Linked DNA regions of Homo sapiens: regions 2 and 3 are each linked to region 1. Evidence: fine-mapped expression QTL. A gene starts in region 1. Each other region holds a variant in brackets. All regions are shown on one strand. Distances are between the middles of the regions.

Region 1 (10,594 bases):
TTAATAGCAAGTCATATACTAAATTGTAACTATTTTAGTTTTCCTGTACAAGTTTTTGTTTTTGCAGTCTTAAAGCTTAAAAATCTTTCCCCCACAATTTTCACCTAATTTACTGTTATTTATCTTTCAAATTCTAGTGTAAGTGTCACATTTTCAGAGAAGCCCTGAAGCATCCTTTTCTCCTACCCCACAATTCTTCCCCATTCTCTTGTTTTAGAGCATTTTGTGCTGCCATAACATTGCCACAGACTGGGTAATTTATAAAGAAAATTTATTGGCTGGGCGCGGTGGCTCACGCCTCTAATCCCAGCACTTTGGGAGGCTGAGGCAGGCGGATCACCTGGGATTAGGAGTTTGAGACCAGCCTAACCAACATGGAGAAACCCCGTCTCTACTGAAAACACAAAATTAGCCGGCCATGGTGGCACATGCCTGTAATCCCACCTACTCAGGAGGCTGAGGCAGGAGAATCGCTTGAACCTGGGAGGCGGAGGTTGCGGTGAGCCAAGATCGCGCCATTGCACTCCAGCCTGGGCAATAAGAGCCAAACTCTGTCTCAAAAATATATATAATAATAATAAATAAATAAATTTATTTCTCACAGTTCTGGAGGCTGGGAAGTTCAATATCAACATGCTGGCATCTGACAAGGGCTTTCTTGCTGCATCATCATAAGGCAAAGGGAAAAAGGGTGAGAGAAGGTGAAAGAGCATAAGCAAGAGCACGCATGTGTGTGAGTGTGTGTCTGTGCGTGCCTGCACACACGCGGAAGAAAGAGCCAAACTCACTTTTATAACCAACCCACTCCTGCAATAGTGACATTAATCCCTTCATAAGGGCCCTGCCCCTGCCCCTTAAAGTTCCTACCTCTCAACACTGTTGCATTGGGGATTAAGTTTCCAACACCCAAACTCTGGGGGACACATTCAACCCTTAGCATTCCCTCACTAGAACATATACACATCTGTTTATTCCTCTTATAAATATTCATCTATTCTTGCCTAGCACCTCTCGTGAGTAATTAGTAATAAGTCTTCTGCTAGACTGTATGTTCCATGAGGGCAGAGATGGAATCTCTTTTTTCACCCCATATTTCCAGTGCTCTCTCAGTAATTTTTTTGTTTGTTTTTGTTTTTTTGTTTGTTTTTGAGACGTAGTTTCACTCTGTCGCCCAGGCTAGAGTGCAGTGGCACGCTCTCGGCTCAATGCAACCTCCACCCCCAGGGTTCCCCCAATTCTCCCGCCTCAGCCTCCCAAGTATCTGGGACTACCAGCACGTGCCACCACGCCCAGCTAATTTTTTGTATTTTTTTTTAGTAGAGACGGGGTTTCACCATGTTAGCCAGGATGGTCTCGATCTCCTGACTTCGTGATCCGCCCGCCTCGGCCTCCTAAAGTGCTGGGATTACAGGCGTGAGCCACCGCGCCTGGCTGCTCTCTCAGTAATTTTTTATAGACAGAGTTACTTAATGCCCTCCATAAAAATACAGGCTCGCGGTCGGGGCAGAAGTGTGGTTACTGATAGTGGGAAAAAAGAAATCTTGCCATAGAAACAGACCTTCATGAACACTCCCCTGGCCTTTTACATTTTCATGACTACTTATTATTATTGTCATTGTTATTATTTTTAGAAATGGAGTGTTCCTCTGTCTCCCAGGCTGGAGTGCAGTGGTGCGATCATAGTTCACTGTAACCTCGAACTCCTGGGCTCAAGTGATCCTCCCACCTCAGTCTCCCAAGTATCTGAGACTACAAGTGCACACTACCTCCCCCAGCTCCATAACTACTTAGTATCAAAACGTCTTGCCACAGAAAAATCAGAGGGTTAAATTATTCACATTATAAAATAATTACATTTCAGAAGGATCACAGTGTCTCCTTAAGTAAAATCCGAGCAATTTTTTTTTTATAAATCACTAAATACTCTACCAAGGAAGAAACCAAAAGAAGTTTTCACAGAGATGGGATTCACGACTTGCTACCCCAAAATATGGCACCTTGGCATATTAAGTATTTTAAGCTGAAGGAATTTGAGAAATAGCACATGCAGGAAAGGCTCCCTGGCCTTCCCCTGAAGCAGATTATAAGACCCTGACATGAGAGCTGCCCTCCCTCTTCCTGGAGGACAGGAGCATCCTATCTTAAAGATGAAGGGACACGGAAAGGAATCTAATGCACAGGCCTTGCTAAATTTCCCCTAGTTTGCTGGACTTAGCTCACAACCTTTGTCCTATCACATTCTTCTATGACTCTCTTCATCAAACCTAGCATAAAAACACTTGGTTTTAACGCTTCTTTGGATCTTCATTTCCTTATGAAGGCTCCCATTTCTTGTAAAACGTGTATGAAATAAAGTGCATGCTTTTCTCTTGTTAATCTATCTTTTGTTACAGGGGGTCCAACGTAGAATCTAGAAGGGTAGACGGAAAAGATATTTTTCCTCCCTTACACTAGCCACTGCTGAATTGGTATCAAGCTGCAATTTAGATAAAGTAAATTTGAATTTACAGGGATTTAAGAGCAGACATTTCCATATCATACATTTAATTTGCCTGTTACTGGCCATGAAGCGAAAATATGGGATTTCCCCTTTTGATGCCAGGGTCTTGGCAACCCTGTCTCTTAAATGAATGAATGGAATGGTGGTAATGACCTGGATTTGAAACTCAAGTTTTCTCAACGTACCCAAACTCACAGGAACCAGATGTACAATTGAGTGTGTCAATTAATTACCTTACACTAAGAAATACAAACTATTCGTTTTTGCCCTGAAGTAAACCAGAATGTCACCCCAAAATGTGCCACTTTGGCATAAGGATTATTTTCATATTATTAATTTAATTATAATATTATTATCTTGGTAACTGAAAAGTAGATCCAGACAGTCCCCAACTTAACGGTGGTTTGACAAGATTTTTTGACTTTATGATGGTGTGAAAGCAACACCCATTCAGTAGAAACCATACTTCAATTACCCACACAGCCATTCTGTTTTTAAATTTCAGTACAGTATTCAATAAATTGCATGAGATATTCAACATTTTATTATAAAACGGGCTTTGTGTTAGATGCTTTTGCCCAACCGTAGGCTAATGTAAGTGTTCTGAGCATGTTTGCAGTAGCCTACTGATGTTTGATAGGTTCCGTGTATTAAACACATTTTCAACTAATGACATTTTATTTTTTTGAGACGGAGTCTCGCTCTGTCACCAGGCCGGAGTGCAGTGGCATGATCTTGGCTCACTGCAACCTCCGCCTCCCGGGTTCAAGTGATTCTCCTGCCTCAGCCTCCAGAGTAGCTGGGACTACAGGCGTGCGCCACCAGGCCCAGCTAATTTTTGTATTTTTAGTAGAGATGGGGATTCACCATGTTGGCCAGGATGGTCTCCATTTCTTGACCTCATGATCCGCCCGCCTTGGCCTCCCAGAGTATTGGGATTACAGGAGTGAGGCTCCACGCTGGGCCTCAACTAATGATATTTTCAATTTACAATGGGTTTATTGGGATGTAACTCCATCCTAAGTAGAGTAAGTAGAGGAGCATCTGTACAAAACAAGCTCCCTACCCTTCCACTATGTACCTAAGAGCAGGACATACATTTTCAAAGGTGTCCCACCTCCTCTTTCTACCAGGGACAAAAGTTAGTCACCAGAGACAACTTTAGACCCTTATCAGCCAGCGATGGCGCTAGAAGAACCTACATAACACACTTTACTCACTACCTGTAACTACCATTAGTTTCTCGTATCTCTGCCTTCCCACTCTGCTGTTTTTGGAAACTTCAAACTGCTTTCGCCATTTCTCCCCAGTTATTGTTCTTTATTGTAAATGCTACGTAATTCCCCCATTCTAAGCCACCTGTTTGAGTTACTCTTCCTTGAGTTTTGCCCATATAAGATGTACATGTTACTAAATTTTTCTTTTGCCAATCCGAGCTTTGTGATAAGGGCCGCAGTGGAGAACCTAGAAAGGTAGAAAGATTTTCCCCCCTTCCTACAGCCCCAAGGAGGGTTTGAGACACGGGTTCCGTTTTTTTCCTTCAGCTCCTCACTTTGTAGATTCCATTCAGGTCATTCCCCTTCCGTCACCATGCCCTTTTTTCATTGAGTAGATATATCTGATGGGCCTGGGGTTTTCTTAGGTACATTTCAGGCCCAGGGGAGACACAGTTTCATTCTTTTTTTCTTTTTTATCGGACAGCCTCCTGAACCAGAAGAGGTTCAGAGCGACTCCCACAGTTTCACTCTTGAACTTGGGTATTTTCCAAATTGCCTCAGCAAAAGGCTGCTGTAGTCGGTCTTCGTAGCTTCCTTCTCCAGGGTATCCTAGCGGCGCGCAGTGCAGGAGCCTCGCACCGCTCCCCGACGGCGGCTGCCAGCTTCCAGACAGACGCCGACCCGGTGTTCGCAACCAGGGCGCAGGCCGGGCCCGGAGCGTTTAGAGCGCCCGCCCCTCGGTAAGGAACCGTCCCTGAGCCACAGGGCCTGACGCGACTGCAGAAGGAGCGTGGGGTCCTCCGAGGTTCCCCTTCTCTAAATGTGCACCTTCCTCAGGGAGACCTTGTGCAGCTGAGGGAAAAGTCACCACTCAGGGTTTCGGGCCGGGGACCCAAATAAAAGTGCTGCCATCAGCAAAAAAAGAAAAAAAAGGCACGAAGAGGAGGTGGGCGGATTCCCAAGGCGGTTTCGCCCACTAATTTTGCCCAGAGATGACTCTGAGGTCTCTGAGCTTAATGCTTTTCAGCTGTTGTGCAGACTCGCTTTGCCCTCTTATAAGCCCACTATGGGAGTTCCCGCTACACGCCGGCCCAGGGGTACAAACGACAACGCGCCGCCCTTGGAGCGCGTCGCCGGGCCCCGCGCTGCGCAGCCTCCAGCGGCGCTGCGTGCCCTTCCTTTTGCCCGTCTCCAAGATGGCGGCGCCGCCGCCGCCCCTCCTCCTCGCCGCGCAGAGCCGCGCTGCGCCGCGCGCTCCCGCCGCCCCTCCCCACGCGAGCTCCACCCAGGTCGCAGGCAGCGCGGTCGGCGGCGGCTATTTCCCGCCATTGTGCGAAGTGAAGGCTAGGGGCCCGTACGCGCCCGCCTGACTGTCGCCAGCAGCTCCTCGGCGGCCCCACCGCAGCCGCCGCTCCCTGAGGCGCGGGAGGCCCGCGCCCCGCGGCTCGCTGTGCGTGGGAGGGCGCGAGCGAACGCGGGCGAGGAGCGGCCGAGCCGCTGAAGAGGAGCTGGGCGCCGGCCGCCCGGCCGCGCTCGGCCCGCGGATCGCCTCCGCCCGGTCTTCGCCGGCCCCGGCCCCTGGCGAGATGCCGTGTGGGGAGGATTGGCTCAGCCACCCGCTGGGAATCGTGCAGGGATTCTTCGGTGAGTGGCGGCGCCGGGGGGCGGGCCGGGCGGGCAGCCGAGTTTGCCGGGCCCCGGGGCAGGGCCCCGCCGCGCGGCCCCCACGCGGTACCATCTCGAGGGCTCGCGTGGCCCGAGACGGGGCCCCGGGGCCTGCACCGGCCCCAGCTGGGACAGCCTCTCCCCCGGTCGCAGCAGGCAGGGGCAGGAGCCGGGCCGCAGGTACCTCCCACCTGCCCGAGTCGCAGCTTGGGAGCCGCCAAGGTGAAGTCGTGGGGCGCGGGCTGTGATTCGCGGGCTGTGATTGACGGCCTCGCTCCCAGCCTGTGGCAGGGCCAGGGCCCCGGCCCCGGGCGCAGCAAACTCGGAGGTCCTCGAACCCTGGGGAGGGCCCGCAGAGCCGCGGGGAGGGAAAACCACTTTGCCTGTGGGAAGCCCACAGGATATTTCAAAACTTCCGGTGCGTCGGGGAGTGCTCGCTTGCACAGAAGTTGGTTCTAACTCCTGTGCTACCCTCATTCTCTCTTTCAGAGATAAGATTTAATGTTCATAGCTTAGTTTTCCTGTTGGGATGACTTTAGAACCCATCTAGTCTGGATCTGCTCCTGTGCCAGAGCCAGCAAGAAATATTGAGCTACTTGAGTTTGTACACAGGGCTGAGAATCCTGCAGGCGAGCTTAGTAAATTTTGGTTGCGATTGCTGTTGCTACTTTACTGCGAAGGGTATACGAAGAAAAGTTTATATTTGTTGTCGTTAACTGGGCATTTTGACAACCGTTCCATTCCCCAGTGTCTTTTTACACGTAATGAGTGGCGGAGTCAGATCCAGCTAGAAATCACTGTAGATGGCAACACCTGACTTGTCTGGAGTTAACTTAGAGTTGTAGAGCGGCCTTAGCTCATTGAAAAAAACATCTTGGGGTACTAGAGAGAAAAGGCAGTGGGAAGCTAAATCATCCTCAGCAGCCAAAATCGACGGCAAACAATGTATGGTATTTCTTATAGGAGGGCCTCTAGTGCTTACTCAGGAAGTCCTTATTAATTTACCTGTAATTCTAATTAGTTTAGTTACCTGGCTTCCCAGGCTGTAACTAATGGCATTATATTAGAAAAAAGCCTGGATAGACGTCCGAACTTAGCCAGTGAACACTGACAGCCTGATGAAGAAATTTAAAACTACCTTCATACTTGAAAAAAAAAAAAATTCACTATATAGCAGTCAAGGGTGCTTTGAGGAAGGGGCATATATTTCTCCACTAAATCCTAGTAATTTATGTTCATAAGAATTCTAGAAATGATAATCGATGGTCAACACAATGGCCCCAAAATGTCAAGTGAAGATTCAATTGTAGCATTGGTTTAAGAGGGTGCAGATGCATAGATACTTTTTAGGAAAAATCCCTCCAAAGTAAAAAGGTTTGGTGCTTAAAGGGTTAAATTTCAGTTACTAATATTAGAAAGTTTATTTATTAGAAATACCCCATACTCTGATTTTGCTGGATAAATGAGATGATTTCATATTTGATAGAGATTTGAATGTATTTGTGTCAAATTTTGTCTTCTAAATGTATGATCCTAAGGGACACATCTCATCATAGTACAGGAAGGATGTAACTTAGATATAAAATAATAGCTTCAGAGTATTTTATAAATTATGTGGATTGTTGTGGGAACCTGAGAAGTTTCTTGATGTGTTTCTCCCCAGAATGTCTTGTTCCCGTGTACGTTGTGTCTTATAGAAAAGTCATAATGTGTTCGTAGAAGCTGTTGCTATATTTTCGTATCACTGTGATTGTATTGCATATCTTTATTATAACAGCATTACAAGTATGTTTGTGTGATAACTTATAGGCACTTTTTGGTTTAGTAGGAAATTGTTTTCCCCCCAGATAGGTAATGCATATGCATTGTACAGAAAGAAAAAAGCAGTTCAGCAACATATAGCAGAAAAGGAAAGATCTTTGAAGATCCTTCACCTTCAAGATAACCACTGGTTCGTGGTTGTGTAGTTTATTTTCTCTGCATATATTTAGACAGTTTTTTTAAACTGAAAAGTTAAGTTTTGTTGTGTATTTTATTTTGAAATATGCATTTTTTTTTTTTGAGACAGTCTCGCACTGTCACCCAGGCTGGAGTGCAGTAGCGCAATCTCGGCTCACTGCAACCTCCGCCTCCTGGGTTGAAGCGATTCTCCTGCCCCAGCCTCCGGAGTAGCTGAGACTATAGGCCCGCGCCACCACGCCCGGCTAATTTTTGTATTTTTAGTAGAGACGGGGTTTCACAGTGTTGGCCAGGATGGTCTAGATCTCTTGACCTCGTGATCCGCCCGCCTCGGCCTCTCAAAGTGCTGGGATTACAGGCGTGAGCCACTGCATCCAGCAGCCTGAATTTTTCCCTTTCTTACTGTCCTTGTCATATAGTATTGTATAAACTTATTAACCCTGTCATATATTTTAAGTTAGGTGTCACAATAATCTAGAGTGTGCTGTCCAGGGCAGTAGCCATGTGTGGCTATTTAAATGTAAATTAATTAAAATTACACAAAATTAAAAATTCACCTCCTCGGTGTTAGCACATTTCAAGTGCTCAGTAGCTACATGTGGATAGGGGCTATTATATTAGCACAGATCTAGCATATTCCTAACATCAGGAAGTTCTCTGTACAGCACTGATCTAGAGGACACCGCTTTTTAGTATGTGATGCTAGTTTTTTTGGATAACCAGCTACTCACTGACTCTCTTTCAGGATCTGAATTTGGTCACTGTATCTTATCCGTTCTAGGGGTTTTGTTTTTGTTTTTGCTTTTTTTGTTTTTGAGATGGAGTTTCGTTCTTGTCACCCAGGCTGGAGTGCAACAGTGTGATCTCGGCTCACTGCAACCTCCTCCTCCCAGGTTCAAGCAATTCTGCCTCAGCCTCTGGAGTAGCTGGGATTACAAGTGCCTGCCACCATGCCCAGCTAATTTTTTTTTTTTTGAGACTGAGTCTTGCTCTGTCACTCAGGCTAGGGCGCAGTGTTACAATCTTGGCTCACTGCAGCCTCTGCCTCTTGGGTTCAAGTGATTCTCCTGCCTCAGCCCCCTGAGTAGCTGGGATTACAGGTGCATGCCACCATGCCCAGCTAATTTTTGTATTTTTAGTAAAGACAGGGTTTCACCATGTTGGCCAGGCTGGTCTTGAACTCCTGACCTAGTGATCCGCCCACCTTGGCCTCCCAAAGTGCTGGGATTGTAGGCGTGAGCCACCACACCGAGCCGCTAATTTTTGTATTTTTAGTAGAGACAGGATTTCACCATGTTAGCAAGGCTGGTCTCGAACAGGTGATCTGCCTGCCTCGGCCTCTCAAAGTGCTGGGATTATAGGCGTGAGCCACCGCGCCCGACCCAGACCCTCATCTCCAATGCTACTGTCAAAATTAAAGCCATCGTAGTCTCTTTCCTGGACGCTGGAACAGCCCTCTAACTGGTTTCTTGCCTCCAGTCTTGCTTCTCTTCCACCTGCCATACTGGAACCAAGTCCTTCAGTGACTTCTTGTTACCCTTACTATCTGATCCAGGACTTTTAAAGTGGTTTATGAGGCCCTTGTTGGCTCCACCCTTGCCTTGCTCTGAGACTTTATCACTGCGTACCCCCTCCTCATACTCCATCCCAGCCGCACTGAACCTTTTTTCAGTTCTTTAATTTTGAACCTGTGTCTAGGCCTTTTTGCATCTGCTGATTTCTTGTGCCTGATTCCCCCTCCCATCCCATGTCCACTTTTCTGGCTAAGTCTTACTTTTCCTTTGGGAACTTAAGTTAGGTACCAAAGTAGGGTACCCCTGCTCCATGTTACTGCAGGATCCTATTATATATGTCTTTGAAAAATAGTGTGTAAAGTGCATTGTTGAAATTCCTTGTTTCGGAAGTTCCTTTGCTGGATTTTGACCCCGCGAATTCAGGGCCCCTGTATCTGCATTATTCACCACTGTATCCTAATTTCTTAGAATTTGCCTTGTACATTGAAAGTGCTCAGTGGACACTTGTTGAACAAAAGCAGTGAAAAGACTGATTAATCAGAAATGTTGTTAATTGAAATGGCTAGTGAGATCACAAATCTCAAAATTTTTCTTTTCTTTTTTTCTGGAGTCAGTGTCTTGCTCTGTTGCCCAGGGTGGAGTGCAGTGGCGTGATCTCGGCTCACTGCAACCTCCGCCTTCTGGGTTCAAGCCATTCTCATGCCTCAGCCTCTCGAGTAGCTGGGATTAAAAGTGTGCACCACCATGCCTGGCTAATTTTTCTATTTTTAATAGAGACAGGGTTTTGCCATGTTGGCCAGGCTGGTCTTGAACTCCTGGCCTCAAGTGATCTGCCCCCACTTGGCCTCCCAGAGTGCTGAGATCTCAGGTGTGAGCTGCTGCGCCCAGCCTCTTTAGCTGTTTTCCCTTCAACTATTGGTTAGACCAAGATCATTATTCTCGTTATATTTAAGCTTCTTTGGTTGTATCTAACAGAACTAGACTAGCTCATGCAAAAAAGAGCAGGGTTGGGTGAAGAGGGGCAGAGCAGACTATTTTATCACTAGCATTTTAGAGAATTTAAAGCAATAATAAAATGAACTAAAAGTTAGTTGGTCTGCTTTTTATTATCACCATGAATCTAAACAGACAATCTGTGCCCTTATTGTCTGTACCCAGCTTGGACCTCTTCTACCACTCTGTCCTTGGTAGGCCACTGAAAAAAGTTAATTTATATTAAGGCTATAAAACCCAAGAACAGGGGAAGTGGTTGGGTATTCGAAGAGACTGAGTGGAATCAGGAACTGGAAAGCTAGCAGGAATCCAAGCAACTCAGTATTTCTTCTCTTGGGATACATTAATCTCTGCACACTTTCTCTTTCTCTACTCCATGTCTCCCAAATTTACTTGTTCTCGGTTCCAACCCACGCTAGCTAGCATCTTTATTTTCAGGCATAGAAAATCTGATTGGCACAACATGGAGTCAGGAATCCATTCACTCAGGGATCAGTCATCTGTGGCCATGGCACAGAGTTAGGTAGGACAATCGTGACTGTTATCCACACCTCAACATTGGGGGCGTTCTCAAAGAAGAAGAATAGCTCCGGCAGCCATGGCAGATGGCATACGTAGGAGTTTTTAAGTTATAATAACTTACACATGGTTTTAAAAAAAATCAACATGATGGTATGAACTGAGTGAAAGTACGTGCTCCCTCCATTGAAGTAACCACTTTTTTTTTTTTTTTTTTTTTTTTTTTT
Region 2 (10,594 bases), 140 kb after region 1:
AATAATGAAACCATCCTCCCAAGGTTTACTGTGGAGATGAAATGAAATAATACATGTAAAGGTCATGGAACAGTGTCTGGCTCAGAAAAGTGCTCAGTTGCAGCTGAGATTACAGGCCAGTTGCGGTGGCTCACGCCTGTAATGCCAGCACTTTTGGGAGGCTGAGGCAGGCAGATCATCTGAGGTCAGGAGTTCAAGACCAACCTGGCCAATACGGCGAAACCCCGTCTCTACTAAAAATAGAAAAATTAGCCAGGCATGGTGGCAGTAGCCTGTAGTCCCAGCTACTCAGGAGGCTGAGGCAGAGAGAACTGCTTGAACCCGGGAGGCAGAGGTTGCAATGAGCCGAGATCATGCCATTGTACTCCAGCCTGGGCAACAGAATAAAACTCCGTCTCAAAAAAAAAAAAAAAAAGAAAAAAGAAAAAAGAAAAGTGCTCAAGAAATAAAAGCTGTTATTATTAGCTACTGTTAATCTCAGGTGATGATGTAGACAACAAAATATACACAAAAACCTCCCTCAATCTGTAAAACCTGATTCCAAAAATTGTCAGTCACCTTAGAAAGACTTTGTACTCCTACCAGGCGTGGTGGCTCACGCCTGCAATCCTAGCACTTTGGGAGGCTGAGGCAGGCAGAATACCTGAGCTCAGAAGTTCAAGACCAGCGTGGCCAACGTGGCGAAACCCTGTCTCTACTAAAAATACAAAAAATTAGCCAGGCATGATGGCAGGCGCCTGTAGTCCCAGCTACTCAGGAGGCTGCGGCACAAGAATCGCTTGAACCCTGGAGGCCGAGGTTGCAGTTGCAGTGGGCCAAGATCATGCCACCACACTCCAGCCTGGGCTGTCTACACTAAAAAAAAAAAAAAAAAAAAAACCACTTGTCTTCTTTTATTTAAGCCAAAAATGGGTGGGGTGAAAACTTTGTAAAGATAAGTCTTTTCTACCTTTAAATGGGAAATAAACGTAGTCATACAAATATGTACATGCATAAAAATAAACATACAGATCTATTCAACCCAACTGTTAGCCTGTCAGCAATATAAAATATGGAGTAAAAAGTAGTATAAGATATAAAACTAGTAACCCATTATAAAAACTGAAGACTAAATACACTAAGAAAAAACCTGGTTATTCAACAACAAAAATGATCAGAAAGATTTTGTAAGCCATTTAATATGTAATTTAAAGTGCCCTATTAAATTCTGTCATGGTAATTTGCAAATTTTTAGTAAACACAATATTTTTTTCTGAGACAGTCTCACTCTGTTGCCCAGGCTGGAGTACAGTGGCACCATCTCAGCTCACTGCAACCTCTGCCTCCCAGGTTCAATCGATTCTTGTGGCTTAGCCTCCCGAGTAGTTGGGATTATAGGCACCCGCCACCACACCCAGCTAATTTTTGTATTTTCAGTAGAGACGGGGTTTTACCATGTTGGCTAGGCTGGTCTTGAACTCCTGACCTCAAGTGATCCATCCACCTCGGCCTTCCAAAGTGCTGGGATTACAGGCGCGAGCCACCATGCCTAGCTACAAACAGAATTTTTTAAAAAGATAAAGTTCAAAATCCTTTTTTTTTTTTAAGTAAATACCAAATGCCACAAAACTCCAAATAAACAGAATCATTTCACAAAAATGATACCTCAAAAAAAAATTCCAGGTGGATTTCAATTCCATAATTATGATTTCTCATTCAAAAAAGTTAACCTCATATGACATAGTAAAAATAATTTCATTATCAAAAATTAACTCTAAGAAGAACAGAAAAAATTTTTAACATTTCTGTGAATTCTAACTAATACCTAGTATCCCTCAAAAAATTGTTCAGGCCAGGCGCGGTGGCTCATGCCTGTAATCCCAGCACTTTGGGAGGCAGAGGCGGGCGGATCACGAGGTCAAGAGATCGAGAGCATCCTGGCCAACATGGTAAAACCCCATCTCTACTAAAAATACAAAAAATTAGCTGGGCGTGGTGGCGCGTGCCTGTAGTCCCAGCTACTCGGGAGGCTGAGGCAGGAGAATTGCTTGAACCTGGGAGGCAGAGGTTGCAGTGCGCCAAGATCACGCCACTGCACTCCAGCCTGGCAACAGAGCGAGACTCAATCTCAAAAAAAAAAAAAAGTTCACTGGGATTCATCACTTAGAGTATCACCTTTCCATATACAGTTTCTATGTTTATGAATGTTATGTGTATGACAGATGCTTTGAGATCTCTTCTTGGTCGCTCAGTCTCAGAACAGAATGTGAATTATTATATAATTTACACACAGCTATAAATTATATAATACTGTCATATCAGACAAAGCCACAAGGACTAGAGGAAGCAATTTTAAGACCAAAGAGATAAGACCATATCAGCATTCCCCCAAAGTGGATTGTATTATATTTCTTTTTGAATCTTCAAATTACAATTCTTATCCTGAGATATTAGACTCTACTCTCAGAAGATTACTGAATGTTTACACGGTGCTTTATCACTTTCCCTGTAGAAAATAAAATAACCAGGCCGGGCGCGGTGGCTCATGCCTGTAATCCCAGCACTTCGGGAGGCCGGGGAGGGTGGATCACCTGAGGTCAGGAGTTCGAGACCAGCCTGGCCAACATGGCAAAACCCTGTCTCTAGTAAAAATACAAAAACTTGCCAGGCGTGGTGACAGGTTCCTATAATCCCAGCTACTCAGGAGGCTGAGGCAGGAGAATCGCTTGAACCCGGGAGGTGGAGGTTGCAGTGAGCCGAGATCGCACCATTGCACTCCAGCCTGGGCAACAAGAGCAAAACTCTGTCTCAAAAAAGAAAGAAAAAAAAGAAAAGAGAAGTAGTAGTCATTATCTTACAACAGACATAAGCATCTAAGCATCTATCAAAAAACTGCTATATATGAATACAGATTACTCATTACCCTTAAAAAAATTAGAAACACCAGAAAAAAAACAATACTTCGTTTTTTAACTAGGAGAAAAAAAACCTGAAAAAGTTTAAATAATGTTAAAGAGGAAAGTAAGGAATACTACCAAAAAGATATTTTAAAAGCCCAGTGTGGTGGCTCATGCCCATAATTCCAGCACTTTGTGAGGCCAAGGTGGGAGGATCGCTTGAGCCCAGGAGGCCAAGATCAGCCTGAGCCATATAGTGAGACTCCATCTCTACCAAAAAAAAAAAAAAAAAAAATTAGCCAGGTGTGGTAGCACACACATGTAGTCCCAGCTACCTGGGGGACTGAGGTGGGAGGAATAGCTTGGTGCCGGGAGGTAGGGGCTACAGCAAGCCATGATCACGCCACTGCACTCCAGCCTGGGTGACAGAGCAAGACCCTGTCTCAGAAAAAAAAAAAAAAGATAATGAGATAATGCTACATCAGATAGAAATATAACACAAGTGCAGGTGTACCTTTCCTCATATTTCCTCATCCAAATGGACAGAGATTTTCCACTCCAATTAAAATATATTCAAAACAGCCCTAAAAAGAGGCCAGGCGCAGTGGGTCAAGCCTATAATCCCAGTACTTTGGGGGGCCGAGGTGGGCAGATCACCTGAGGTCAGGGGTTTGAGACCAGCCTGGCCGACATGGCGAAACCCTATCTCTAACAAAAAATACAAAAATTAGCTGGGTGAGGTGGCACACACCTGTAGTCCCAGCTACTCAGAAGTCTGAAACAGGAGAATCGCTTGAACCTAGGAGGCAGAGGTTGCAGTGAGCCGAGAACACGCCACCGCACTCCAGCCTGGGCAACAGAGCAAGACTCTGTCCACTGCCCGCCCCGCCCTTTCCCCCTCCCCCAAAAAAACAGGCCTAAAAAGAGCAACAAACATAATACAACATCTTATTTTTAAGGCAATGATATTACTGAGAGAGAACTTAGACTTAACTTTAATTCAGCTCAACTCAAACAAAAACGCCTTCTCTGTCCTAAGTACTCTAAAGCCTAGAGACACCAAGATGAGGAGTAAATACAGCCCTTGCCTTGGGGAACACACTGGGACTTCCCACCGGGGAAGAAGTAGGCAAACTTTTATTATGATGATGCATAAGGGTTAGAATTGAAGTGTCCACTAAGTGTAGAAAATGCCTGGAAACACAATAAAGGTGGCCAATAATTCTGCCCCAAGGATGAGGGGTAGCATCTGAGCTGGGTCTTATGGAATGGACTAGGTAGGAAAAGGGGTTGACAGTAACAAACATTCCAGGCTAAATAAATGAGTATTTTAATCTTAAATATCATCATTACTTATCCTTCTGATGTCTCTAGAAAAAGGAAAACTCTTGTTTCAGGTTGTTCAATAGTCACGAATGTAAAAACCACGATGCCCACAAGCTTTTTTGAGCTTATAATACTGCCCTTTCAAAAAAGAAAAGGACTTAGTAATCTATTCAGCTAAATAACCAGTAGGAAACAATGAAAGATTTTAAATGCTGTCACTACAAACAGCAGCAAAACTTGCCATAAAAGCACAGGGGAAAAGTCCAATAAAATAAAGAGAATTTTAAATGATTCCATATACAGAAAAAGATCTGAAAAGCACTTATTCAATTAAAATGCCATTCTTAAATAGCCATTAGTTAGAAAGGATCTTCAGTCCTGGACAGGATAAACTATAGGAAAATCAAGTGCATGGGATTCTTTATTCCCTGGCTATCCTGAACACCTTAAGATCAAAACTGGCTGTTACTTCTGAAACATGGCCTCTTCCTTCCTCCAGACATTTGGTCTACTTGGTCTGTGGCCCGCTATATTCTAAAAAGTATGCCAATCTCAAGTGCAAAGGCTATAGCTACTTTCCTCCCC[C/A]AAAAAAGTTTTAAATTTGCCTTCTGACATGGACTTTGAACAAACAGTAATCCAAACTGCATGGCTTCATCCAAGAATCTAGGCGCAGGTTAGCCTTTATAGTTCAAGAAACTGGGGTGTAGAAAAGTTTGTTGTCAGATGAGTTGGAGACGATCTTAAGTCCCATCCAGTTCTAATAGTCTAAGCTTTTAGAATCCAAGGAGTTGACTCTTTTGACAACCTAGGAATTTTGAAATCTGCTTTACTTCAAGCTGTACTGAAGCCTTACCCAAATTTGGGGGAGTGAAAGGAGGGAAGGGGAGAAAGCCAGACAAATGGTCAAATCAGAGAAGAGAATGACAGAAGACTGGCCAAAATTAGCCTATCCATAATAACTCTATCCCGAGATCATCAAGAACTTTATCTGGGCCAAGGAGTTTATCCTCCATTCTGAAAAGAGGAAATACAACGTAATAGCAAGAAAATATAGACAGAGCCTGAGGAAAAAAATAAGTTATCCTTCACTGCTCTGGCAAAGCAACTAGTAGGCCTTCCTAAGAAAGCAGTGGGGCCTGCCCAAAAGTGTTCTGGAGGTCACAGAACTGCCCTGTGTCAGTGTCTCAACTCTAGGCTGTGACCCCGAACGAGTTACTAATAACCTCTCACTCCTTTCTCCTCACCTGAAAAAGAGGATCCCACACGTGTCCTGTAAGGTTGCTGTGGGGATTGGAAATAATATGTTAAAGGGCCTGTCCTTAAAAACCATCCTATAAGTGATACCACGCTGTGATCTGAAAAGCTCATCTGAACCTTTTATCCTTTTCAATTCATATCATGTAATCCTTCTGTCTAGACTGCACATAAGAATTACAAGTAAGTCTGAAAAGCTCTGGCTCCTTCCTTAAAGAACTCTATCCTCTCGCTTTCCCTAAAGTGGAAGAATCTCTGAGTGATATGAGGAAAGGATTAGCAAGCCAAAAGGGGCAGGTGCCACCCAGCCCCATCTTACAAGAAACTGGACTGTCAGCGCTCTGAGGGCAGGGACTGCTCTGTTTAAACCACGACTGCACACACATTTTCCTAAAGCAAGCTAATTGCAGACTTAAGCCTCTCCGAACAGCTTACATGACACCCAAACATGGACCCACAATACATTTTGTGTCGCACAACATCAAGTCACACAAAAATCTCAAAATTATACATTACAATACAATTTAATTGTGCTGTGGTATTAAAGTCAAAGACAAAGGCTTTAAACCGAGTGCCTATGAGGTAACCACAGTAAAGTCACACCTTTAATAATAAGGGACCAAGAACACACGGGATGGCAACAGGGAGTGAGTGTCCAGCAGAGCCCTAGACGGAACTGGCGCAACCGCTCCAGATCGGAATTCGAACCCAGAACTTCTGGCGAAGGCCATGTAAGAACTACTCCAAGGAGGAAGAGGCCTTTACGGCCAGGTGCACCTTGCTGGAACTTTCTGCCGGAGGGGACCCCCTCCCCTCGGCCTGGGCCCCAAGCCCCAAGGGCGGCCGCGTGACGCGGTGGGAAGGACGAGGGTCGCCAGCCCCTTCTGCTCCGCACTGGGGTAGGGGCTCGGCGCTGTCTCGGAGAAAGGCCAGGCTCCTTCCAGTCAGGGAATAATGACAGCTCGCGCGCTCGCAGCCCGCCCCGCCCCGCCTCACCAGGCCCGCAGGCGGCTCCTCCCGCCCGGCTGAGGGGTCCGGCCGCGCCCCCTCCTCTCCCCGCCCTGGCCCGGGGTGCCCCCCGCCCGCACCGCCAGCCTCACCGGGTCGGAGCTGGAGGCCGCCGTCGCGGCGGCTGCACCACAGCGCGCGCTCGCCCTGCTGCAGGATGTAGTGGTCCTTGGCTTGGAAGAGCTCCATGCTGGCCCCGCGCGCCCAGGGAGGCGGCGGCCCGCGGGCGGCGCACGGGGCGTCCTAGTCGGTCGAGGCCGCCAGAGCCCGCGCCTCGGGGAGCGGCCGGGTAGGAACCGCGCCGAGAAGCAGCGGCAGAGGGAACGCCCCGGGGCACCCGACCGGTAGGAGGAGAACGCGCCCCGGCAGCGGCGGCGGCAGCGGCGGCCGTAGAGGCCTCTCCCCCCCGCTCCTCCCCTTCCCTGGCTCCGCCCCAGGCCCGGCTCCACCCCCTCTGCTGGCTACTCTCCCCGAGCGCCCGGCTCCGCCCCTCAGCCTCCTCCTCCTTTCAGCTCCCTCCCGCTTCCTGCCCTTTCCTCCGCCTTCTCCCGGGTGTCTCCTCCCAGCTCCTCCCCGCGGGTCTTTCCTCCTCCCTCTCGTCCTTCCGCCCGCCCCTCCCGCTCTTGCCCAGGCCCCTCCCCCGGCGCGCCAGCCTTCCTGTCGTGGTCACCGGTGGCAGCTCGGGAGCTCGGCCGAGTCGGTCTGGACTGACCGCCTCCCTCCGCGCGGCCTTGGGGACAGGCGCCCACCGCTGGGGCCTCCCCTCCGTGCAGGGAGGCGCTCACGCTTCGCCAGGCCGAGACCTGAATCCAACCCCACACCCGCTCTCCCGGAGCGGTGCGGGGTACGTTCCCCGCGGGCCTGCGCTGCCTGCCCGTACCGAAACCAGGCGAGACCCCGGGGCCTGGCTACAGGGGTTCATCCCCAGCCAGGCCCACAGCCAAGCGGAGGCGTCTTCTGTTTTCGTATTCCCTATTAGAAGTTTGACAACAGGAGGCATTCAATAAATGCACATCAACGAGGGAAAGCATGTAACAATAGAAAACACACAAGCATTAGCAGCACGCGGCTAAAGAGCGAGGAGGAAGGGAGGAATGTACAGGTGCTGCTGTGTCCCGAATTAAGCAGGGCGGTTTGGAGAAGACTTCACAAATGGAGCCAGTTAATGAAGCAAGCGGAAGGAATATCGTTTGGCGAGGATAAGATGAATGGAGACCCTCTCGGGGAAGGAGGAGTCTCCCCCAAACATCCTTGAGCTCAGTCTGTCTTGAAAAACCAGTTGATATCCTGAACAGAATGGGTCTGGAGAATGAGGCCCCCACTTCCGGGGCCAGTTCGAGGACTATCTAGCTGTGTGATCTTGGGGAAGTCTCTTGGTCTCAGATGGTGGTTGAACTAATGACCTTTTATGACACCCCCAGTTCTATAAATCATTGAGTCTTCCTACTCCTAACTCCTTGCCTTCTCTAATGCCTGAATCGGAAACAAGAGAAAAAGACAAGAAGTAGGAGATGAGAAAAATAAGGCAATACTTTTTTTTTTTTTTTTTTTAGTTTAGGAGCGGAAGTTTATAGGCAAAAGAAAAGGGAGAACAGCTGTCTCTCTTGCGAGAGAGAGGAGTGACCGAATGGGACTTCTCAGAAAGCAATACTTTTAACCTTCTGCTCAAGTAAAAGTGAGAGGGTACAAAAGCAGGAAGGAGTTCCACATGACTAGTTATTCCAGCCCACAGTGTTGAATTTCCATAGCACAGAAAGTCCAATGATAACAAAGCGTCCTGGAATCTTTTCTAAGTACCATGCCTCTGTGCTGTCCAGACACCTCAACATAAAGGTCGAGGGAGGTGGTTACTCTATCAAATCTTTGTGATGTGATTTGGAGAAAGAAGGTAATGAAGCTATAAGAAGCTTCAGTGGAACCATCGGTTTCAGATTGATTGTTTAATTCAGCCATGTGTTGACTTAGCAAAAATGAGAATGAGAAAATCCTATGAAGACATTGTATCCTGCAAATTATTTCATTATTGTTTTATGAATTACATTGCCAGATGTGAAGAAAACAATGCTGTTGTAACTGTTTTAAAACAATTAATTAGTTCATTGAAACTTTTCCTGATGTTTTAGATCCATGGTTCCAACCCTGGCTGCCTATTAGAATCACCTGGGGAATTTTTCAAACATATCAATGCTTGGACCTTAGACCAATTAAATCAGAATTTAATTGGGGTGGGGCTCTGGCATCAGTTTGTTTATTTTTTCTAAGCTCCCCAGATGACTTTACTATGCAGTCAGGCTTGAACACCACTATTTTAAGTGAAATTAATTAGTAAAATCTGCCTGACAGCAGCTTGGAAAAAAACAGCAGTCAGTCATTAACTAATGCCATCATATGGGCTTGGTTACCTGTAAATGCAGAGTTAACAAGCAAAGTCTTTAGGAGAGAGGAAAACATGGAGGGGAGATGCTTCTGTAATTATCTGACCCCAATGCACACTGCTGTCTCCCTCAGGCTCCAAACACATGCTGTGGGGTAGGCACAGCTCTAGCCTGGCTGAGCAGAGTGAAAAGAGCACATATTTTCTGTCCCTGGTAGATGTCACATCCCCAATCTACTGCCACAGTTGCCTTGCCTTGTTTCTGCTATGAACTTCCTGAACCTTGGCCACTGCAGCCTCTCCACTCCCTGGCTAGCCTATCCTCGGCCTGTGGCTAACTTGCCAGCCTCATCACCCTCTTCCAGCTTCCTAATTCAAGGTCCTCCTGCCCCGATGCCACCCAGGTTTTAATGGAAAGTTCACGTGATGCTGCTCTCCTTTTTAAACACAGATGACCATCATACATATTATATATCTTCTTTTACGTGTATGGCATATATATGCTAATTTAAGTATAATCACTAAGGAGTTTGGTTCTAGCCAGTTCTGTGTGATTTTGGTCAGTTCACTCAATCTCTTTTGATCTCAGGGTCCTTATTTATGAAAAGAGATGATCACTAAGTGTTCCCTTCCAGTGCTGAAATCAATGTGAGGAAATGTGTCCACGTAGTTAAACCTACACAAATGATGGTAAATAAGCCAACTGTGATTATCGATTTAGCCCTTCAATATCTCTGAGATCTTTGGATTAGATTTTGGTATCCTCTGGTGAGATTTGACTTTAACATCATCTCCTGTCTTCTGTCTACTTGTCCATAGTCTTGTTTGTTGTCTGTGATAACTTTCTTCAGTCTTGTCTATGAGAAATCTCCCAAAAGAAGAGATTTATATTTATATAAATATATTCCCCCCTCCCCCAGCCTGCCTGGAGGCTGCTAATGTTGCAGGTCAGCAGTCCAGGTGGCTTAACTTTGTTTTTTGTTTTTTGTTTTTTAATTTTTTTTTTATTGATAATTCTTGGGTGTTTCTCACAGAGGGGGATTTGGCAGGGTCATGGGACAATAGTGGAGGGAAGGTCAGCAGATAAACAAGTGAACAAAGGTCTCTGGTTTTCCTAGGCAGAGGACCCTGCGGCCTTCCGCAGTGTTTGTGTCCCTGATTACTTGAGATTAGGGAGTGGTGATGACTCTTAACGAGCATGCTGCCTTCAAGCATCTGTTTAACAAAGCACATCTTGCACCGCCCTTAATCCATTTAACCCTGAGTGGACACAGCACATGTTTCAGAGAGCACAGGGTTGGGGGTAAGGTCACAGATCAACAGGATCCCAAGGCAGAAGAATTTTTCTTAGTGCAGAACAAAATGAAAAGTCTCCCATGTCTACTTCTTTCTACACAGACACGGCAACCATCCGATTTCTCAATCTTTTCCCCACCTTTCCCGCCTTCTATTCCACAAAGCCGCCATTGTCATCCTGGCCCGTTCTCAATGAGCTGTTGGGCACACCTCCCAGACGGGGTGGTGGCCGGGCAGAGGGGCTCCTCACTTCCCAGTAGGGGCGGCCGGGCAGAGGCGCTCCTCACCTCCCAGACGGGGCGGCTGGCCGGGCAGGGGGCTGACCCCCCCACCTCCCTCCCGGACGGGGCGGCTGGCCGGGCAGGGGCCTGATCCCCCCACCTCCCTCCCCGACGGGGCGGCTGGCCGGGCGGGGGGCTGACCCCCCCACCTCCCTCCCGGACGGGGCGGCTGGCCGGGC
Region 3 (10,594 bases), 190 kb after region 1:
GAAGATACAGGTCATAAAGACCTTGCTAATAAACCAGGTTGCAGTAAAGAAGCCGGCTAAAACCCACCAAAGCCAAGATAGTGACAACAGTGACCTCTGGTTGTCATCACTGCCACACTCCACTTGCACCATGACAGTTTACAAATGCCATAACAACATCAGGAAGTTACCCTATATGGTCTCAAAAGGGGAGGCATGAATAATCCACCCTTTGTTTAGCATATCATCAAGAGATAACCATAAAAATGGGCAACCGGCAGCCCTCGGGGCTGCTGTGCCTATGGGGTAGCCATTCTTTTATTCCTTTACTTTCCTGATAAACTTGCTTTCACTTTACTCTATGGACTCACCCTGAATTCCTTCTTGCTCCAGATCCAAGAACCTTCTCTTGTGGTCTGGATCAAGACCCCTTTCCTGTAACACAGTCAAACGGTAAGCCAATGGGAAGCTGGGTTTCAGTCTTTGTGAGAGTTTCTCTATTTTCATTCCTGTTCCTTCCAAAGGGTGAGGCCCTTTGGAAGTTGAAAGCTGGCGGCGACTACTTGAGCTCTTCCTTCCTTAGCATGAGACTGCTGGGAGCTTCTCTGCCTCATGAAATAGGCAAATGCCTCAAAATTCAAAGCTCTGCTAACCCTTCTCTCCAGGACCTTGACCCTCAAATCCTCACCCCCTTGGCGGCTCACCTTCAGATAGGTCTTGTTTGTTTTGCCAGCTTTTCTAGCTGCTCCGGATAGGAGGACTGATCTGCCAATCTGCCTTTAGGGGAAACAGCAAGAGATTGCCTCTCAGTCTTTTCTTGAAGCTTTCAAATGCAGGCTTTAGGCCTATTGTGATGCTAATGGATCTCCTCTGCCCTTACTTTGCCCATTCTGCATGGAGGGGGCAGCTCTAGTCCCCCAAGCATGAAAGAAGTTGGGTACTCCCGGTTCTGATCATTACTGCCACCAGGAAGAGCTACGGGGTGAGAGGGGGGATGGATTTCTCCCTAGTTATGTAAGAAACAAGCAGGTCTCACCCTTCATTTTTCCTTTCTCATACAAGGTGAAATACTGCAGTCTCATACGAGGAAGCATGTTTTTCCTGTTAACATTATTTCGATCCTGGTCCTTAGGGAAAAATAAGCCCGGCATTAAAGTGCGGGGAGCACTCACCTTCCCCCACCCCACAGTCTGGCTTATAGTGCTAGAACACCAACCAAGTGGTGACTGGGCCGGACCACAAATGGATGCGGATGCGGTCAGCTCCCGTTATGAGGATAGAATTCTAATCAGATTGTGGATCCGATTACTTCTGACTCATAAATCTCCCTGACTTTAGAAAACAGGGATATCTTATTTATTGGAGGAATGACAGTGTGAACAGAGGCGTGGCTGCGTTCTCACCAGCTGAGATAAACGCCGACCAGACCAGCACAGACATCCTGTGCTCGTTTCCTTTACTTGGTTTTTCAAATAAAGCCTTTGTGTGTCACTGGTATTGTGAGGAATACGAAATAATGAAAGAAGTGATTCTTCAGGTGAGTCATTCTATTATAAAATGGAGCCCACCGTCAGGAACTGCTCCCTGAGAGAGCAGGACAGGATTTCCCTGCGCGGGGAGTGAAAGCAGAAGGCGCAGTCACGACGCGCCCCCTACTGGTCAGCGAGGAGAAATCCCTCACCTCAGGTTTCAATTAGTGCGGGTGAGTCCTGAATTAGGAACCTCAGACCTGAGGCCTGGTGTGGTGGCTCACACCTGTAGCCCCAGCACTTTGGGAGGCCGAGGCAGGTGGATCACTTGAGGCCAGGAGTTTGAGACCAGCCTGGCCAATATGGTGAAACCCCGTCTCAGGTAAAATAACAAAAATCAGCTTGACGTCGTGGCACACACCTGTATACCAGCTACTCAGGAGGCTGAGGCAGGAGAATCGCTTGAACCCGGGAGGCGGAGGTGCAGTGAGCCGAGATGGCGCCATGGCACTCCAAAGAATCACAGAACTGGCCAGGCACGGTGGCTCACGCCTGTAATCCCAGCACTTTGGGAGGCCGAGGTGGGAGGATCACCTGAGGTCAGGAGTTCGAGGCCGGCCTGGCCAAAATGGCGAAACCCCCCTCTCTACCGAAAAATGCGAAAAGTAGCCGGGCATGGTGGTGCCCAACTACTGGGGAAGCTGAGGCAAGAGAATTGCTTGAGCCAGGGAGGCCAACGGAGGTTGCAGTGAGCTTAAGTCGTGCCACTGCACTCCAGACTGGGTGACAGAGAGGAACCTTGTCTCAAAAAAAAAAAAAAAAAAAAAAAAGAAAGAAATATTACTGAGAATCACAGAACTGAAGTGGAATTCCATGAATCCAATGGAATTACATTAAATTCCATGAGTAGGAATCCAATTCCATGAATGAAATTTCATGAATCCAATGGGATTCATGGAATTGCTGACACACAGTGAGATACTAAGGAGGCTAGGAGGCTAAGATGAAGAGCCCCTGTCTCAGGACTCCAGGGCCTAATTTAACAGCCACAATCTGCCAAGGTCAGAGGTAGCCTTAACGTGTACTGTACTCATAAATCAATCTCCCTGGAGATTTCAAACCTTCAAATTGCTTTGGTAAAGCCTTAACTCCTTTCAACCTGAGGAAGTCGATTGAAGAAAAAAGCCTTAGCTCTAAAGAAAGATTTTGAGTTTCTCATTCCAGTGGACCACAAAAAAATAAAAAAGAAAGAAAGAAAAATCGCATTTGTGCAAAATCAACCATTTACATTTTATACTAATCAGTAAGTTATTCTTGGGCCTCGTGCTTGTTTGTAAACACATGCCTTCTCTCTTTCATTCTAACTGGAAACTTTATCCTTAAATCTGTTCGTGCAATAATTATGAAATGTAATTTTATTTTTAAACAATATATTTTCTTTTGTTTGTTAATTTCTTACTTTTTTTTTTTTTTAGACAGAGTCTATGTTGCCCAGGCTGCAGTGCAGTGGCGTGATCTCGGCTCACTGCAACCTCTGCTTCCTGGGTTCAAGCTATTCTCCAGCCTCAGCCCCCCAAGTAGCCGGGATTACAGGCATGCGCCATGACGCCCGGCTAATTTTTTTTGTATTTTTGGTAGAGACGGGGTTTCGCCATGTTGTCCAGGTTGGTCTCAAACTCCTGGCCTCAAGTGATCCACCTGCCTTGGCCTCCCAAAGTGCTGAGATTACCGGCGTGAGCCACCATGCACAGACTCTTTTGTTAATTTCTTTAATTTTTAAATTTCTATTGATATATTATAGTTGTTCTTATCCTGAAGATATTTTGATACATGTATAAATGCATAGGATCAAATCAGGGTAGCTATCGATCGCCTCTATGTATTTTCTTGTATCTTGATCGTTAGAGTGAAATATAAGGAACAAAAAACAAACATGGAGAAGTTACCATGTTTTTAGTATTTTTAAATCCTAAGGGTTTGAAAGGTATATATTTGGGATAATGGGCCTTTTTGTCTTTTTTTGTCTGAAGGAAATTTGTGACCCAATAATTAGTCAAAATTATCTCCAAAAAATGTTAATGAAACTGGGCACCTTTTGGGAGACATTTTTAAATTATGTCAGCTACTTCAGTGTCAGAGGGTGGACAGAGTTGGCTGAGAACAGTCACATTTAGACAAGAGTCTTGTGTGTACTCTTTTGGTTATGAAAATGTAGGGCAAGTAAGCACTCATTGCCCTGAGTGAAAAGTGACATAAACATTTTTTTAAAGGGTTCATGAAGCCTGTCCCTCCCTTAATACCTCTTGATGGGAAAATTTCATTGTCAGGCTGGGGCTCACACCTGCAATCCCGGCACATTGGGAGGCCAAGGCAGGCAGATCATCTGAGGTCAGGAGTTCGACACCAGCCTGGGCAACGTGGTGAAACCTGGTCTCTACTAAAATTACAAACATTAGCCGGGCATGGTGTCGGGTGCCTGTAATCCCAGCTACTTGGGAGGTTAAGATGGGAGAATCACTTGAACCAGGGAGGTGGAGGTTGCTGTGAGCAGAGATTGCGCCACTGCACTCCAACCTGGGCAATAAGAGTGAAATTCCATCTTAAAAAAAAAAATTAAAAATTGAGAGATTTCACAGGAACAAATTTCTGGTCTTTCTGGAAAATTGGAAATCTCTTGTAACGCTGGACCAATGCCCCACATGACAATTGCTGCGTGGGGCCAAGCATCAGTCCCTGGCTCTGCCCCCAGACTACATCCAACTTGTGACAGCTTGGCTCTGTCAATCCTCCACCTGGCTGGCCTCTGTGAACTGTGGGATCGCACCTTGTGGAAGGCTTGTGCTGGGATAGAGCTGACTCAGTGCTGGGGGATCCCTGAGGGGACCCCAGGATTTGAATTCCAGGTTCCTAGAGGATATCAGCTGAATGCTCACCTTTCTGTGTGCCCTGTAGGCATAGATAAGTTTGGCATTCAGGAGAAAGAGGGTACCAGAGCTCCAAGCTCGATCCGGCACTTTTGGATCCGTTTCCATCGGTTCTTACAGCTGCTCCTCAGACCCTAGCAGCCAAGATGGTGAAGCAAATTGAGAGCAAGGTTGCTTTTCAGGAAGGCTTGGAGGCTGCAGGTGATAAATTTGTCATGGTTGACTTCTCAGCCACGTGGTATGGGCCTTGCAAAAAGATCAAGCTTTTCTTTCATTCCCTCTCTGAAAAGTATTCCAACATGGTATTCTTTGAAGTACATGTGGCTGACTGTCAGGATGTTGCTTCAGAATGTGAAGTCAAATGCATGCCAACCTTCCAGTTTTTTTTTGTTGTTTGTTTGTTTGTTTGTTTTTGAGATGGATTTTTCCTCTTGTCCCCCAGGCTGGAGTGCAATGGCAAAATCTCAGCTCACAGCAACCGCCATCTCGCAGGTTCAAGTGATTCTCCTGCCTCAGCCTCCCGAGTAGCTGGGGTTATAGGCATGCGCCACCAGGCCTGGCTAATTTTTGTATTTTTAGTAGAGACGGGGTTTCTCCATGTTGGTCAGGCTGGTGTCGAACTCCTGACCTCAGGTGATCCACCCGCCTCAGCCTCCCAAAGTGCTGGGATTACAGGTGTGAGCCACCGTGCCTGGCCCTTTCCAGTTCTTTAAGAAGGGACAAAAGTGGGTGAATTTTCTGGAGCTAATAAGGAAAAGCTTGAAGCCACCATTAATGAATTAGTCTAATCATGGTTTCTGAAAACATAACCAGCCATTGGCTATTTAAAACTTGTAATTATTTTTATTTACATAAAGTATAAAGTATGGAGACTATAAACCCAACTGCCATCTGGATGACAACAAAATATGAATTCTACTCTTTTTTAAAAAAAAAAAAAAGAAGAAAGAAAAAAAGAGGGTATCAGAAACAGACCCAGAGATGACTGGGGTCTGGGAGGAGGAAGCTGGAGAACCGGTGAGTGTGAACAGTATGCATCAGTCAGGGTTCGCCAGAGAAACAAAATACACATATACAGCGCTTGTGTGGTGGGGATGTGTATGTGTGTGTGGGTTTAATTTTTATTATAAATAGAGATGGGGTTTTGCCATGTTTCCCAAGCTTGTCTTGAACTCCTGGGCTCAAGCAATCCACCCTCCCCAGTCTCCCAAAGTGCTGGGATTACAGGCATGAGCCACCGCACCCAGCCATGTGTGTATTTTTTTTTTTTTTAAGGATTTGGCTCACATGATTGTGGGGACAGACAAGTTGGAAAGCTGTAGGGCAGGGCAAGTCAGGGCAGGGCAGCAGGCTAGAAACTCAGCCAGGGCAGATGCTGTAGTCTTGAGGCAGAATTTCTTCTCCTCCGGGAGAAATCAACCGATGGTAGATGTTAACCAAGTCTGTAGAATATCTACTCAGCAGCATCTAGTGCTGGAGTTAAATAGCTGGGTGCTATGGTCCAGCCAAGGTGCCGCCTGAAACACCCTCACATGGTGGGAAGAGCGGTGGTTGAAGAAGGAACCCTGGAGACCTTGATGTTGAAGAGAGGGCAAGGGAAGAGGGTGAGTCAGAGCCTGCTGGGGAGGAGAGCTGGAGACATTGCATAACACCAGTGACAGTGTGCCCACAGAAGTGGTTTCGGTAGGGGTGGGTGCAGGAATGGATGGCTGTAGGTGGATCAGGACGTGGGAGGTGAGGGGACTTAGCTGGCTCTTCCACGACATGTGATCAGAAAGTGGGGGTGGTGAGCTGGGGGTGGTGACCCGGGCACGATGGCTCATGACTGTAATCCCAGCACTTTGGGAAGCCAAAGCAGGTGGATCACTTGAGGTCAGGAGTTCAAGACCAGCCTGGCCAACATGGTGAAACCCCTTCTCTACTAAAAATAGATTTTTTTTTTTTAATTTAGCTGGGTGTGTGGCACATGTCTGTAATTCCAGCTACTCGGGAGGCTGAGGTGGGAGAACTGCTTGAACTTCGGAAGCAGAGGTTGCAGTGAGCCAAAATTGCACTACTTCACTCCAGCCTGGGCAACAGAGCAATACTCTGTCTCAAAAAGAAAAAGAAAAAGAAAAGTGGGGGCAGGGGGTAAAGTGAGGAGGAAGCATTTCTTTTTGGTTTGTGTTTTCTGTAGGCTAAGGACAAGAAAAGAGCCATTGGAGAGAGAAAGAGATGAAGTGGAAGACAGTGAGTGAGGGGCTGGCAGAAGGATTTCCCCTCTTCAAACTAGAGGAGAACTTCCTCAGCCTCCATGCAGCCGGCCAGATCCTAGGGCAAAGCTCTGGCTAGAGAAGGCAAGGACAGGCAAGAAAATGTTTTAGAAAAAGACCCTTTCCATCTGGAATGCTTTTTCCAACTCCCTTCACACCTTCAGGCTGGCTTCTAGTTGCACCAGGAACTCTGGGCCCACGTGTGAGGTGCGGGGGCAACACTGTCCATCG[A/G]GAGGACCTGTGGCTGCCTCCTCATCCCTTCCACCAAGCGCAGGATGGCACCATTGCTGGCTTCTGCTGCCCTCTGTTGTGGTCCTGTACCTCCTCACCTGCTCAGATGCTCCGCGGGGACTGATGGAGCTCTTCCTGGTCTCCAGTGGTTCTTACTGGGTAGTGCTGGACAACAGAGTACCAGGAAGGCAGGGACCTGGCCAAGCGCACATACGCATGAGTGGAGGAAATTTTACAATTTTTAGGAAGCAACAAAGTATAAAGTGGGAATTGCACATCTTCCTTACGTTTCTTTTGTTGTTTTTATTTTGAATTACGTATTGAGGGAAGCGCTACAATTTTTTCCATAGGTGGGTGTCTAGGGCTTCCCCAGCCCCGCTCTCAGCCCTCTGCACTCACACTTTTCAGAGCCACAGGATGTGTAAGGGCACCGGAATCACCAAGGGTGGGTGTGCCTGCTGGAGCTTTTTTTGTGCTGCCTGAAAGTTCAAAACACGCTGGAACAGGGAAAGAAAGGTATTTGCCCAAGTGACTAAGACATGTTCCAGCGTTTTCCCACAGGCTCCTGCACATCCCAAAATAACTGCAACCCTGGATCCTGTCCGTTGGCATTCGATTACATTTGTATAATGTTACAGACAGTGGGCAGGCCGGCCAGCCACACTCACACAGGGGCTTGCAGGACCGCACAGCCCATAATGGAGCTCCACGCTATGCTTCCTGGCTAGGCTGCTAAGGGAGAAATACCAAGGCAGAGACCACAACAGTAGCCAAGTGCAGACCTGCCAGAAACATCCAGATCACCAAGAGGGCCCTTGGGCAAGGCCCTCCTTTCACAGATGAGAGCAAAGGGCACAGAGAGAGGAAATTACTTACATAAATTAACTTAAATAAATTACATATCTGGGAATTATGAAAGTTGGTGAAAGAGTTGGCCCTCAACTCACAGCTCCTAAAGAGGTATTTATTTGTGCAGGAACATCAATTTAGCCTTAGAATCCTAACATCTTAAGTGGAAGGGACTTTTAAGCACTCCCTGACCATCCAGGGTGCTTCTGTGCCCAGGTCTGGACAACAATGTGGGAAGAAGGAAGTGTCGGAATGAACCTGCCACCCCTCCGGGGATTCTGTCTTGCTGAGGAAATGACTCAGGATGTTGAGAAAACAACTGGGTTTTGGCAAATGCACAGAAGGGTGCTAGGAGCTTTGGGAAGGGAGAGTCTGAGAAGGAATGCGTGGTCCAGGTGGGGAAAGTTTCAACCCAAGGTGGGCCTCAGAGTGGGAAGATCTGGAGGCTGGGCATGGTGGCTCACAGCTGTAATCCCAGCACTTGGGAGGCCGAGGTGGGCAGATCACTTGAGGTCAGGAGTTCAAGACTAGCCTAGCCTGGCCAACATGGCAAAAAACCATCTCTACTAAAAAATACAAAAATTAGCCGGGGTGACGCACACCTATAATCCCGGCTGCTCGGGAGGCTGAGACAGGACAATCGCTTGAACCCGGGAGGCAGAGGTTTCAGTGAGCTGAGATTGCATCACTGCACTCCAGCCTGGGCGACAGAGTAAGACTCCATCTCAAAAAAAAAAAAAAAAAAAAAATGGAGTCGGAAGATTTGGAAAAGCAGATAGAGAGGGCCTGAGCAGGCATCGCAGGAAATAGCCCTGACACTCGGTAGATGCTCAGTGGCTGTAGCCCCCCAATGCCTACAGGGGCCAAGACAGTTGTGTCACCAAGAGCGTACAGCTAGCTCTATGCCCTGCTCCCCACACAAGGCCCAGGGGCCACCAACACAGGCCAGATAACTCCCGTCCTGATGCCCACAGCATGTCTCATTTGGATGATTGAAAATATTCCAACCACATTAAACAGCTACTTATTTGATGATGTTTAGTGATAAAAATACTATCAACCTAATCCAGTAACCACTCAAGGAGGCTTAACGTCGTATGAGGTCCATTGAGTCCCAAAGAGAAGTGGTCACATCATCTTTGGTTCTTTTTTTTTTTTTTTTTGAGATCGAGTCTCACTCTGTTGCTCAGGCTGCAGTATAGTGGCGTGATCTCGGCTCATTGCAACATCTGCCTCCCAGGTACAAACAATTCTCGTGCCTCAGCCTCCCAAGTAGCTGGGAGTATAGGTGCATGCCACCACGCCCGGCTAATTTTTGTATTTTTAGTAGAGGTGGGGTTTCACCATGTTTGCCAGGCTGGTCTCGAACTCTTGACCTCAAGTAATCCACCCGCCTCGGCCTCCCAAAGTGCTGGGATTACGGGAATGAGCCACTGCACCCAGCCTGGTTCATTTTTAAAATAGTCTAGTATTTTTTTTTTTTTTTCCTATTTACATGTTCGAGTTTCTAGAATCAGTGGCATGTCGGCTTGTACTCCCCAAATGAGTTCACCCAGGAATGATGTTGGCAGATTCCCATGGGAATGACTTCAGCCTTCCTCAGCAGGCTAACAGTGGCAAGCACACCAGGGTGTATTTTTGTGCAGCATCGTCAGGCACCAGTATTAAACTCAATACAGTCATGAGAAATTCAGCTCGGGGGCTCTTAAGTCAGCACTTCACTGAGAGTTCCAAGGTCTCAGGCCTTTCTCTTTTCACTTTATTTGGCAAGTAGTTAAATAAATAAATAAAATAAAAATAAAAAATAAACAAATCCAGCACATCTCCATGCTGTGGGGCTGTGGTCCCTCCCAAGGTTAAAAAAAAAAAAAAAAAGCCACTGGCACAGCAAGAAGAATCTCCTTCTACCCAGGCCTGAGTGTATCTCGTCCCTAACTCCAGAGGCTTCTAGGAACCCAATCCAGGAAGATAAATCTGGTCTCAGTTTGGTTTGGTGACTCACAAGGTGTTAATAAAGATGACCCCAAGATTCTCAGAGCACATTTCCAACCCCCAGTGACCTAGACTCCAAGGAACACTTTGGCCAGCCTTGGGCAATAGTGGGAGCTGGCTTCCCTGTGCGCTTCCTTTTTTAATTTTTAGAGACAGGGTCTCAACTCTGTTGCCCAGGTTGGAGTGCAGTGGCGGGATCACAGCTCACGGCAGCCTCATCTCTTGGACTTAAACTATCTTCACGTCTCAGCATCCCTGGTAGCTTGGGACTGAAGACGCATGCCACCACCTGGCTGATTTGTTTTTTGTAGAGACAGGGTCTTGCTATGTTGCCCAGGCTGGTCTCAAACTCCTGGCCTCAAGGGATCCTCCTGCCTTGGCCTCCCAAAGTGCTGGGATAACAGGTGTGAGCCATTGCGCCAGGCCCTCTGGGCACTTTTGGACAATCTCAGCTTCTTGGTGAGGCCTGAGGACAGGTGGGCAGACATGCTACCTAACTGGCACCTTGGCTGTTGGCTGGGTCGGTCCGAACGGATGCAGCAGGCATGTTCCCATTACCGGAGTTCACAGCCCTGAGTCTTCCCAGGTTCCTGTTGCAATCTGAGACTGAAAGGTGACCAAGACAATTCTCTCTTGAGCCGGGCTATTGGAGACGTCACAAAACCCAAAGCAGGCTTGTTAAATGCACCTGTCATTTATTCTGACTGAAACCAGGGACAGACAATCTCCATGATGCCACTGCTTTCAAAGATTTAGAAACCACAAAAACCATTTTGAGTTATATTATTACTTTATTTTCTTTTTTTAAAATGTAGCATTAAAGTCATCCAACATACAGATATTCCTATGGCTCCTGGCACATTTTACTCTCTCTAAAGTCAGGTATTTTAATTATGAG

The links. PIP is the estimated chance that this variant, and not a neighbour inherited with it, causes the effect.
Region 2: its variant is fine-mapped to the expression of MCMBP in lung (TOPMed, PIP 0.95).
Region 3: its variant is fine-mapped to the expression of MCMBP in whole blood (TOPMed, PIP above 0.99).

Annotation. Positions count from the first base shown.
Region 1 is chr10:119,867,294-119,877,887 of GRCh38, reverse strand. MCMBP (minichromosome maintenance complex binding protein) reads left to right here and starts at 5,045. Exons shown (of 16, transcript NM_001256378.2): 1 at 5,045-5,361. The coding sequence starts at 5,304. RefSeq lists enhancers at 4,516-4,685, 4,551-4,710 and a silencer at 4,941-5,590.
Region 2 is chr10:119,722,322-119,732,915 of GRCh38, reverse strand. INPP5F (inositol polyphosphate-5-phosphatase F) reads right to left here and starts at 6,866. Exons shown (of 20, transcript NM_014937.4): 1 at 6,557-6,866. The coding sequence starts at 6,653. RefSeq lists a silencer at 6,438-7,207 and an enhancer at 7,818-7,867. The variant C/A (reference allele first, on the strand shown) is at 4,788.
Region 3 is chr10:119,677,693-119,688,286 of GRCh38, reverse strand. LOC124902513 (a long non-coding RNA gene) reads left to right here and starts at 5,616. Exons shown (of 2, transcript XR_007062312.1): 1 at 5,616-5,976; 2 at 6,549-7,137. BAG3 (BAG cochaperone 3) reads right to left here. Exons shown (of 4, transcript NM_004281.4): 4 at 10,468-10,594. It also overlaps the pseudogene TXNP1. RefSeq lists enhancers at 1-714, 715-1,651 and a silencer at 4,401-4,580. The variant A/G (reference allele first, on the strand shown) is at 6,856.